3 linked regions of the Homo sapiens genome follow. The protein of the gene in region 3 purifies or fractionates together with the protein of the main gene of each other region. This does not show direct contact. Each region holds a gene or a part of one and is shown on either strand. Other genes may lie near its edges.

Region 1 (3,653 bases), on a different chromosome or scaffold from region 3:
GTCTATTCAGTAAGTACATTGTTAGTTATGTTAGTCACTTTTTTAAAAAAGTCTCTGTGTATTTTTTAAAATTCTTGATGTATTTTTATCTTTTTAGTTTCATAGCAAAAGAGCTTTCAAGCTTTCATATGAGTTTCACTAGTTATCAGTATACACTAGGTTAGACTTGGGGTAGTTACAAAGTAGGTCTAATGATAAAGTACTGAGTATGCATTGTTTGGTGATCTTCACTCAAATACGAAGCTGTGTAGGACTGTTTCAAAAACTAGCCCATGCAGATGGATTGTTTTTAATGTGCTACCAAATACGCTTGTATATGATGAGATACTCAAAAATTGCACCTGAACCTTCTTATTCTATAAAAATGGAGTAAATGATTCTGAAAGAATATATGATTTGGATCATTCTTGATACCCAGAGTTATGTTCACTGCCTCCCACCCAGAGTTCCTATCAGAAGCGTAGGCTGGATATTTTAAGAGGTTCTGAAAGTTGTTTCAGTTTACGTATAAGCTGCCTTTAAACAGTTAACTTCTTCAGTTCCCAGATTGTGGTCTCCAAATACATCATCTCCTCTAAAAGGAGCTTAAGAGTTTCTGGAGAAAAGGCTGATTGTAGGGCGGGATGCAGGACTGCCAGTGACCCTGGGGCTCAGGAGCCTCCTAAAGCCCACCCCGGGGCCCCAGGTGGAGCAGCATGAGGTCAGGACTACAGTGGAATGAAACCTACCAATATGTTCAACTCTATGAATTCAACACGGTGTTTAAAAAATGCACAAATCAGAGACAAATTATAAGATCACAATATGTGGTCCTTATTGAGCTCCTTCCTGATGCAAGCAAACTAGTTAAATAGAATTTCTAACATGAGACAGTTGGAGACTTGAATACTGACTAGATATTTGTGATGTTAAGGAACTACTCTTCATTTATTTTAGCTGTGATAATGTTTTTAAAAATAGTCTCTTAATGATACACTAAAATAATTATATCTTAGACTTCCTTCCAAATGAGTGGTATACAGGTGAAATGAGATTGGCTGTAGTTGACAGTTGTTGGTACATGAGGTTTGTATACCGTTCGGCTGCCTATATATTTGTTTAGTTTTCCTTGCTAGCATGTTAAAGAACTAACTTAAGTTTGGACCTGTAGAGATGGTTAAAAGCATTTAAAAATTGGCAAGTTTTTTCCCTTATTACAGGAAAAGGCACTAAATTTTAAATATGTGTTTTTCCTTTTAGGGTATTATAGGTCTCTATATTTGTTGATTAACAGCAAGCTTCCATCAAGTATTGAATATTCTGATTTATCTCGAGTTCCTATAGCAAAAATTTTGCTAGAGAATGTTCTAAAACCATTGCACTTTACTTACAACTCCTGTCCGGAAGGTGCGAGGTGAGACTGGAATGGATTTATTGATTTTGTCCTTTCACAAGATCTATATCTGATGGTAACTTTTACATAGGATGTGATTTTAAATATAGACTTGAAATTCAGGTTTTTACTTTATTAGTGTTGATTTAGTTTATAGGAAAGTGTACTTTTTCTTTCTGGCCTGTAGCCTAATACAAATTTGTGATTCTGATAACATGGTTATTTTCCTGCTTTTCTAAGTAACTGTCAAAAATTAACGAAAACATGGTAGTTATCTTAATAGAGAAGACATTAAGTTTACTTTAGGTTGATCTAGTTGATATTAAAATGGTTAACTTGGCTAATTTAGAAGAGTAGATTATCCTTTTAGAAGGATATTTTGAAAGGTGATTTTAATCAGTGATTGGATGGACAGTATAATTTGATTTTATAAAAAGCTTCTGTTTTTCTTTTTCAGGCAACAAGTTTTTACAGCCTTCACAGAGGAGTTTCTGGCAGCACCTTTTACAGATCAGATTTTTCATTTCATCATTCCGGCGCTTGCAGATGCGCAGACCGTTTTCCCTTACGAGCCCTTTCTGAATGCACTGTTGTTAATAGAGAGTAGATGTTCAAGAAAGAGTGGTGGAGCACCCTGGCTTTTCTATTTCGTTTTAACTGTTGGCGAAAATTATTTGGGTATGAAATACAAGATCTTTTTTACCTGAACACACATATGGGTAGCATTGGCAGATGAGTCAAGAGAAGGCCATGCAGTGGCAGGTGTTATGGAAAGGTGGGCCTCTCCTGGAGGAGTGTATTTGCTGGAGGGATGTGGTCTGGGCAGTGTGTTCCTGGGGACAGTTTCCAGATACAGTGGAAAAGACTGACATATATATGTGTCTTATGAGGCCACACAGATTATTTTAATAGAGTTAACAGAGTTAAATGGGAAAGCTCTTCTGTGAGTCAGGCCTGTTTCCCTCCCTCTGCTAAATTTCCAGTGTGCCTCTTCTAGAATAACATCTTCCTGTAGTATGTTTGAAAACATACATACATACATACATGCATGAATTATTCATGAAAGAAATATAGGAAAATGTGAAAACCAAACTTTTGGGGGTTGGGTGCGGGGGGGTATATAGAGTCTCGCTCTGTCACTAGGCTGGAGTGCAGTGGCTCCATCTCAGCTCACTGCAACCTCCGCCTCCCGGGTTCAAGTGATTCTCCTGCCTCAGCCTCCTGAGTAGCTGGGACTACAGGTGCACGCCACCACACCCAGCTAATTTTTGTATTTTTAGTAGAGACGGGGTTTCACTATGTTGGCCAGGATGGTCTCAATCTCTTGACCTCGTGATCCACCCGCCTCGGCTTCCCACAGTGCTGGGATTACAGGCTTGAGCCCCTGTGCCCAGCCCAAACTGTTTTTCTTACTCTCTCACTCAACACTGAAAAATTCTGTGAGCAGAAATGTGGGGTTTTTTTTCCCACACACCAAGCAATTCTTCAGTGGACACCAACTAGGTATTCTACAATTCAGTTCAATTCTGATGCCGTCCACCCGGAGATAATGTCAGATCCCATCATCTGAGGGCTTAGTCCTGCAAGACTACACCCACTTCAGAGGCCGATTACAAGTAGTAGGTTGTCACCTATACTTCTGACCAACCTGCAAAAATGGGGGTTCCTCAGCCCCTCCTTGGGATTGGTAATTGACTAAGACAGTTCACAGAACTCGGGAAGTCGAGGTGTGCGGGAATGGGGAGCTTCCATGCCTTCTCCAGGCACTCCACACTCTCGGCACCTCCCTGTGTTGAGCTCATTGTGTCTTCCTGTTGAGTTTTATGGTGCTTCTTCTCCAGTGTCCCTCCCACAGACAGCCCCTTGGAAGTTGGTGCGTGGGGCTGAAAGTTCCAACCCTCTGATCACTTGGTTTTTCTGGTGAAAAGCCCCATTCTGAGTCCCCTAGATGGCCTCACCATAAGTCACCTCAAGTATGATCACAAAGGGCTGGCTATGAATAACAAGAGACTCTTTATCTTTCAAGAAATTACAAGAGTTGTAGGTGCTTTCTGACATGAACGGGGACAAAATCTAAATATGTTTCCTATTATAACACAGTTAGAATTTTAAAAATAAGATCTGGTCAGAAATGCCTCTCTGCGTGTGAGGAAAAATGGCGTCTTCGTTTTCCATTTTAAAAAATAATGTTTAACTAAAATACGTTTTAACTGATTGTTTTGCAAAGGGGCCCTCTCTGAGGAAGGGCTGCTGGTGTATTTGCGGGTGCTGCAGACCTTCC
Region 2 (3,653 bases), on a different chromosome or scaffold from region 3:
CTTCCCCTGATTGAAAAGTCACATAATCATTGTTTAATGAATTTATAGGTTTTGGTGTTTATAAAACCAAAAAACTCTAATATTGCAACTTATTTATCCATTGGGAGTTGAAACATTGCTAAATTTAAAAAAGTCACCCCAAAATAAAATAATGTAATGGAAAGAAAGATCTTATTTATGGTAGGTCTGTAGAAATTATAATAATACACTCTTTTTTTCAGGACTGGATTCCTCCCTTTCTCTCCAGTCAAGAAAGCAGTCACTTTTTGCCCGACTAGAAAATATTATTGTCACAGATGTTGATCCAAAGACAGTTCATAAGAAAGTAGGTGATTGTAAACAGATAGTTAATATTCTTTAATGACTGAATATGAGCTTCTATTGTAAAATGTATTTTATTTTAAAAACATTAATGAAATATATTTCAATAGAAAAATTTTTTTATAAAGATTATAAATGTAAAGCCTTTTGTAAATGAGATTTTATTTTGTCATTACCTTCCCGGATAGAGTACATTCAAGTCTCTGTTTTTCAGGCTGTGTCAATAATGGGAAATGAAGTTTTCCGTTTTAATTTGGATTTGTATCCAGATGCTACTGAGGGGGATTTGTATACTGACATGTCCAAAGTGGATGGTGTGCTGTCTCTGAATGTTGGCTGTATTCAGATTGTCTATCTTCATAAATTCCTTATGTCACTTCTGGTAAAATAATTATTTGTATATTGATTTTTCAACTTTGAAATATTTTAAAAGTGTGATAATTATGATGGCAAATGTTATAAACCTTGGATTTTAGAGTGGGCATTATTTTAATTATATTTATGCGTGAATGTAGAGATCAAAACCCCTATTTAACAGTTGAAAAGTGAATCATTTAATGATTTTTGTCTAGAACAAATTATTTTTGCTACAATATAATGAAGCCAGATTCTTTAGTATAAAAATTATTGGAAAAAAATTTTTCTCTGTTCCTTAACCATATAACATTAGCTCAGTTCAGGCAGCTCATAGTTATAGATGGATTATCCGTAATTTCTTAATACTGCTAGAAAAATAGGGCTCAATGGAAAGTTAAATATTGGAAAAAAAAAGTTACCACATGTATGAAAAGAAGATAGTGTTATTATTGATGTGCCTGTATTCTCTTTGAATTTCTCTTTTTATGCTTTGTGTCCACAGAACTTCCTGAATAATTTCCAGACAGCCAAAGAGTCTCTGAGTGCTGCCACTGCCCAGGCTGCAGAAAGGGCTGCCACAAGTGTGAAAGATCTTGCCCAGAGGAGTTTTCGTGTTTCCATCAATATTGATTTGAAAGCACCGGTTATAGTCATCCCACAGTCTTCTATTTCCACCAATGCAGTAGTGGTAGATCTTGGGTTAATCAGAGTTCATAATCAGTTCAGTCTGGTGTCTGATGAAGACTACTTAAATCCTCCAGTAATTGATAGAATGGATGTGCAGCTAACAAAGCTTACACTTTATAGGTATGCTCTTTCAATAATTATGGATTTAAATATTATATTCATGATTTCCATGAAATTTTATGACTTGAAATTCCTACCCAACACAGTTTATTCAAATAAACTGTTCCATTACACGGAACAGTTTTTTTTATTGTTGTCATTGTTTTGTGTGTGTGTGTGTGTGTGTGTGTGTGTGTGTGTGTGTGTGTGTGTGTTTTGAGTTGGAGTCTTGGTCTGTCACCCAGGATGGAGTGCAGTGGCGTGATCTCGGCTCACTGCAACCTCTGCCTCCTGGGTTCAAGCAATCCTCCTGCCTCAGCCTCCCGAGTAGCTGGGACTATAGACATGTGCTACCATGCCTGGCTAATTTTTTTTGTATTTTTAATAGAAATGGGGTTTCACCATGTTGGCCAGGCTGGTCTCAAACTCCTCACCTCAGGTGATCCACCTGCTTTGGACCCCCAAAGTGCTGGGATTACAGGTGTGAGCCACCGCGCCTGGCCCAGAAGAGTTTTTTATTTTGTGTTTTGAGATGAAGTCTTGCTCTGTCGCCCAGGCTGGAGTGCAATGGTGCAGTCTTGGCTCACTGCAACTTCTGCATCCTGGATTCAAGTGATTCTCCTGCCTCAGCCTCCTGAGTAACTGGGACTATAGGCACGTGCCATCATGCCTGGCTAATTTTTTTGTATTTTTCGTTATAGAGATGGGGTTTCACCATGTTGGCCAGGCTAGTCTCAAACTCCTGATATCAGGTGTTCTGCCCATCTTGGCCTCCCAAAGTGCTGAGATTACAGGCATGAGCCATCGCACCAGGCCACCAGAACAGTTTTTTAATCAACTTTTGTTTTAAAAAATTTCAGACCTACAGAAAAATGGAAAAAAATAGTACTGTGAATGCACCTACATATCCTTCATCTAGATTCACCAGTTGTTTATATTTGCTTTAACCTATCTATAAACATATACATATTATTTAAAACATTTTTTGCTAAATCATTTGAGAATAGACATCTTTAACTTTTTGTCCCTAAATACTTTATCATATGTCTCCTATAAACAAGGACATTCATTCTCTTATATTAACTATGATATAATTCTAGAAATTTAATATCGATGTAATACTATAATCTGAAATTCAGTCAATATTCAGATTTTACCAGTTGTCCCATTATAATAATTCGCATTATAGGAATGTCCATTATAAAAATTTCTCCCTGATTCAGGATCACCCATAGCGTATAATTGTATTCTGTACTATTGAGGAAGATTTCTGTACTGACAGAAATTTATTTTGGAGTAGTTCTTCAGCTTTTCTTTGTCTTTTTATGACTACATGACTACTACTGTAGTTTTGAAGACTACAGTCCGGTTCCACTCACCTCTCAATTTGGTTGTGTCTGAGTGATTCCTCATGGTTTGATTGAACTTACACATTTTTGGCAGGCATGTTGTGTAAATTATTTTGTATCTTCAGTGCTCATACCAGGTGGCACATGAAATCTGTACATAATTCATTTTAAAATTATTTTCTACCCCATCCATGAAGATTTAATTATGTAGAATAAAAAATTAATGACTACAAGGCAAGTCTAGAAAATAATCCTAGAGAAAACCTTTATGAAATGCCTTGGAAAATGCTAACTCCTCTTGTTCACTTTGCCATCATTTTCTTCAGTCTCTGCACCAACATACCTATTAATCCTTGAACAACTGTATATGATGATTTTCTGTATTTCTTCAATGGTGTGGATTGCTTTTAAAAACTTATTCAATTTTTCACCTATCTACTGTTTAAAGAAAAAAGTTTTCTTAATGGTTCATTGTATATCACCTTTTAATTTGTCCCTTCTAGTGGATTATAGATTAATTATAGGTTCAGTTTTGAAAATACTCAAGCCACACTGTTTCAGATCAGTATTTAGAGCAGCAAATAACTGCTTGACTTTGCTTTTTTTTAATATGTTGCATTTCTACCCTATATCTATGCATTATGTAACATTTCTGTTTTTCGTAGGACAGTGATCCAGCCAGGCATCTACCATCCTGATATTCAGCTGTTGCACCCAATTAACTTGGAATTTCTTGTAAATCGGAATCTAGCTGCATCTTGGTACCACAAGGTGCCTGTTGTGGAAATTAAAGGACATCTTGATTCAATGAATGTAAGTATATGAGTGAAGAAAAAACTT
Region 3 (4,171 bases):
TGAAGAAGTGAGATCTATCCAAAAGTGGTTTTCAATTGTGCAAGACCATGGCATGAGAGTTTAAGAAACTTTGGGCTGAGATTTCAAGGACCTGAGACATATCTACTGTTGAATATTTGGTAATCATTAAGCATACAATTTTGCAGATGTTAAATGTTAAGTTAAACATGTTTAATTTTTTTTAAGTAAAATAAATCATTTCTGTTTCTATTCAGAATATGACAGTATCAGAATAACAGGAGCTAACCCTAACTGAACACTTAAAGTTTGCCAGGCACTATTCTGAATTCTTCACAAAAATTAGCAGTTTTACTCTGCACAAAAATCGCCTGAGATACGTTGCTTTGCTGATGAAGAAATGGAAATCCAGAGAAATAAAGTCGCTTACTCAGTCACCCAGCTACATGATTTGTGGCTCTGGAAGTTCAGCTACTAGGACTCTTCCAACTTCCTACAGGTGTCACGAAAGCACAAGACCACACACTTACACACAGTTCTGATGAAAGAGGGCTAAAAGGAAGATTTCAGTAAAAAGGTCAACAAGGCTTTCTAAAAAAACTGTAAAGGTAAATAAATGATGTGTCGCAGTAATTCTCACCAATTAGGAAGCATCTTAGAAAAGCATTGGATTTCCTCTAGTTAAAAACATCTATAAAAAGTGATATCAAAATATAGGAAGATGTAAATATCTAAATTTTAACACTGTCACCTTGCATAAATTAGGCTGAATAGCTGATGGAATAAGACCTAAATTCAATTTTGTTCCATGCCTTTTTACTGTGATCTGAAAGGGGTCTTGAGGTGAATGATCCTGTACTCATCCTCCACCAGCCAATCAGTCTGTTTATTATTTGGCTTTAAAAAGAAACCCCTTCACCATGATGGAGCAAAAACTGTTACTTGGCTATGTCAAGAGAAAGCAATGCAACAAGTACAAAGCGTGCTGATTAATGCACCTTGTCTATCTCTATCAGACAGAGAGCTAGATATTGATAGAGACTGCTATCCTCATGTGTAACTACATCAAGCTAGAGAGACTGTTATAATACAAGTGGACTGAGGCAGCCGTGAGCAGAGAAACCAGGAATGCTCGCCCCGATCTCTAGTCTTCAGTCTTGGCCCTGTTTCAACTTTCAGTTTCACATGTGGAAAAATCGAAACTCTAACTCAGCTGAGTGTTAGTCAAAGAAGGTGTGTCCTGCTCCCCAATGACAGGTTGCTCAGAGACTGCTGATTTCCATCCCTATATAAAGAGAGTCCCTGGCATACAGAGACTGCTCTGCTCCAGGCATCTGCCACAATGTGGGTGCTTACACCTGCTGCTTTTGCTGGGAAGCTCTTGAGTGTGTTCAGGCAACCTCTGAGCTCTCTGTGGAGGAGCCTGGTCCCGCTGTTCTGCTGGCTGAGGGCAACCTTCTGGCTGCTAGCTACCAAGAGGAGAAAGCAGCAGCTGGTCCTGAGAGGGCCAGATGAGACCAAAGAGGAGGAAGAGGACCCTCCTCTGCCCACCACCCCAACCAGCGTCAACTATCACTTCACTCGCCAGTGCAACTACAAATGCGGCTTCTGTTTCCACACAGCCAAAACATCCTTTGTGCTGCCCCTTGAGGAAGCAAAGAGAGGATTGCTTTTGCTTAAGGAAGCTGGTGAGTACATGGTCCTAGACAGAAATCAGGATTCTCAACCACTGGGCAGTGGGGTAAGGCGAGAAGGGGCTGGGGGTATGCACAAGCTGGAGAGCTTCTCCAAAGCTTGAGGTCACCATTTACCCTTGCATGGTGAGCATGTTGTCCTATGAGAAAATAATTCAGTGAATTTTGGAGTGGGCACCTAGTCCTTCCTAAATCACAGAATTGGGCTGGAACAGGGGATTTGTGGAGCAAACCTGTCCCTCCTGCCATTTGGAAGCAAGAAGGGGTCTATGCAAAGGGCAGGTCCCTATTACACTTGGTGTTTGGAAAGAGGCGGTTTGGGAAGTTTGTACTACTTTCTGAGTTTGCCCACAACACTAACGAATTTGGGTTTTCCAGAAACAGTTATTAATAATTAGAAAAGTTGGAAACAAAAACAAAAACTTTGACATAAAAATAGCAGTAGTTGAATCTTATATTTGAGTTTGTGTATATTCTTTTAATAGGAAACCTTAAAATTTTTTTAACAAATATGTCAAGGACTTAGCCTTCAAGAATGCTTACTGAGCATCACCACATTAGTAACTGGCAGCGTCTTGGAGAGAACTCAGCACGTGACCTTCGAATGCAATATCTTCCACTCCAGATCTGTTCTGCCTTCCGTCCTTGTCTTCCTGTCTTTCCTAGAGTACCTTCTCAACTAGTAACTTCAGCAACATCTCTAGCTTCTTTCCCTCCTTGTTTAACTTTTTAACAAAAGCATAGCATACATGCACCAGATTACACATATTCTGGATGTGCACCCTGATGAATTTCACAAAGCAATCACAGCCAGGTAAATAGCCTGCAGATTCAGAGAGAAAGCATCACCAGCGCCAGAAGTGCATGCTGCACTCCAGCCACTACCCTGGTAAGCACTTGCTGGACTTCTAACACACAGATTCATTTTGCCTGATCCTGTACTTTATATAAATGAAATCATACAGTGGGTCCTATATTGGATCTGACTTCTTTGCTCCACGTTACATTGGCTTAGTTACCCAAAGCTGATTGCTCAAATGAGAACCTGACTTCCCATTCCCAGTGTGGCTTAACTCAAATTCCTATCATTTCTCACCAGGATTACTGTAATTCAACTCACTGTCTCTGCTTGCCCCATTGAAAACTCCTGATCTTTTTTTAAAATGTACTTTTGGTGATTTAACTCCTAACTCTCCTTCTTATGAGCATCGTTGTCAAGGCCCCTGGCAAGCTCAATGTTGCTCTCAGCCTCTGCTACCCTGATGGCTTGGGTCCCCTCTGCTGTAGACACAGCCTGTCACACTCATTTTCTCCAAACATCAAAATTGTTAAAATGATGGTCATATTGTTGTCTCTTCCTAGAATGTCTGTCCTCAAATCTTGTTGGTGAACTTTCAAAGTTCCTTTGAATTCTCCTTGATCCTCTGCAGCCATAATTATGCCCTTTACTTTTCACTTATGAGCTTATAGCAGTTGGTACAAATATGTCTTGCAGCTTTTTAAAATGTACTATTTTGTTCAGTTTTTTTTTTTAATGTCTGGTTCCTCAAAGAAATTGCATTCCAAGGTTGAATTTTACCCTCCTGTGTGTCTTCATGCCTGACAGGATGTCTAGAAAGTAATAGAGGCTTAAGAAATGTTTTAGATAAATGAATGAATGCATGAGTGAGTGAATAAGGAGATATGTCGAGGGAAATTACGACTTTCATTCAGAAAGCCAGGGTTTGAGTTTCTGCTCTAACATTTACTAGATTTGTCAAGACATTTAGCTTTTCTGAGTATCAGTTCCATGATCTTTAAAATTATCTTTAGATAATAATGATAACTGATAAACCAATCTCAAAAGTTGGTACAAGGCACAAACAAGTGAATGTTCATGTATTTTTGTCATAAAAGATAAATTATTATTAATAGTTATAATTAATACTTTTATATAATAACCTCTCAGTTTAAGTAAGTAAAACAAAAGTTAATTGAAATGCTTACATGATAGTGTAGGTTGTATTTTCCTGTAAGAGAGATTTCTAGATAATGGAGGAAAACTATTTTTTTGGTTGTAAGAATTAAAGAAAGAGGAAAGAAACACAAAAGGTGGCTCCACAGTCAAGGACAGGTTTATTTTAGAGAAAAAAAACCTGAGAGGGGCTTCTGGCTGAGTTAAGTCAGAGCCCACTCTCTTACAGACTAAGAGTTTTAAGGATTTGGCGTGGGAGGGTTTATTAGAGACTTGGACTGCTTCTGTTTCTCTTTGTTGTGCTTATCTGGGAGGGAGAGTTGTGTGTCTGTTCCCGTACATCTTCCTGCAGCTGCAGGCATACCCACCCTGAATCTGCTTTTAGCTTCCCTATCTTAGAACACTAAAGAGAAACTAATGTGCTTATTTAGGCCCACTGTTTTACTGGGACCCATTGTATGACAGTGAAGTTTGGCAGTTACCTAAAAGACTTCCCCTCAACCTCCCTCTGTGCTCAAGCTGTCTTGTCTGTGTTTTACTGTCTGCTCTTTCTGGCTGCTTGTGG

What was found.
Region 1: the proteins of RSAD2 (region 3) and UBE3C purify together in Homo sapiens (affinity purification with mass spectrometry, with the first as the bait; one large-scale study listed by BioGRID). This does not show direct contact.
Region 2: the proteins of RSAD2 (region 3) and VPS13C purify together in Homo sapiens (affinity purification with mass spectrometry; one large-scale study listed by BioGRID and IntAct). This does not show direct contact.

The regions. Positions count from the first base shown.
Region 1 is NC_000007.14:157,180,279-157,183,931, forward strand, and holds part of UBE3C (ubiquitin-protein ligase E3C), read left to right. Parts: intron 1-1,239; coding exon 1,240-1,393; intron 1,394-1,829; coding exon 1,830-2,050; intron 2,051-3,599; coding exon 3,600-3,653. UniProt on the Homo sapiens protein: E3 ubiquitin-protein ligase that specifically catalyzes 'Lys-29'- and 'Lys-48'-linked polyubiquitin chains.
Region 2 is NC_000015.10:61,959,421-61,963,073, reverse strand, and holds part of VPS13C (intermembrane lipid transfer protein VPS13C), read left to right. Parts: intron 1-221; coding exon 222-325; intron 326-535; coding exon 536-703; intron 704-1,180; coding exon 1,181-1,485; intron 1,486-3,478; coding exon 3,479-3,626; intron 3,627-3,653. UniProt on the Homo sapiens protein: Mediates the transfer of lipids between membranes at organelle contact sites. Necessary for proper mitochondrial function and maintenance of mitochondrial transmembrane potential.
Region 3 is NC_000002.12:6,876,501-6,880,671, forward strand, and holds the start of RSAD2 (S-adenosylmethionine-dependent nucleotide dehydratase RSAD2), read left to right. Parts: upstream 1-1,276; 5' UTR 1,277-1,300; coding exon 1,301-1,646; intron 1,647-4,171.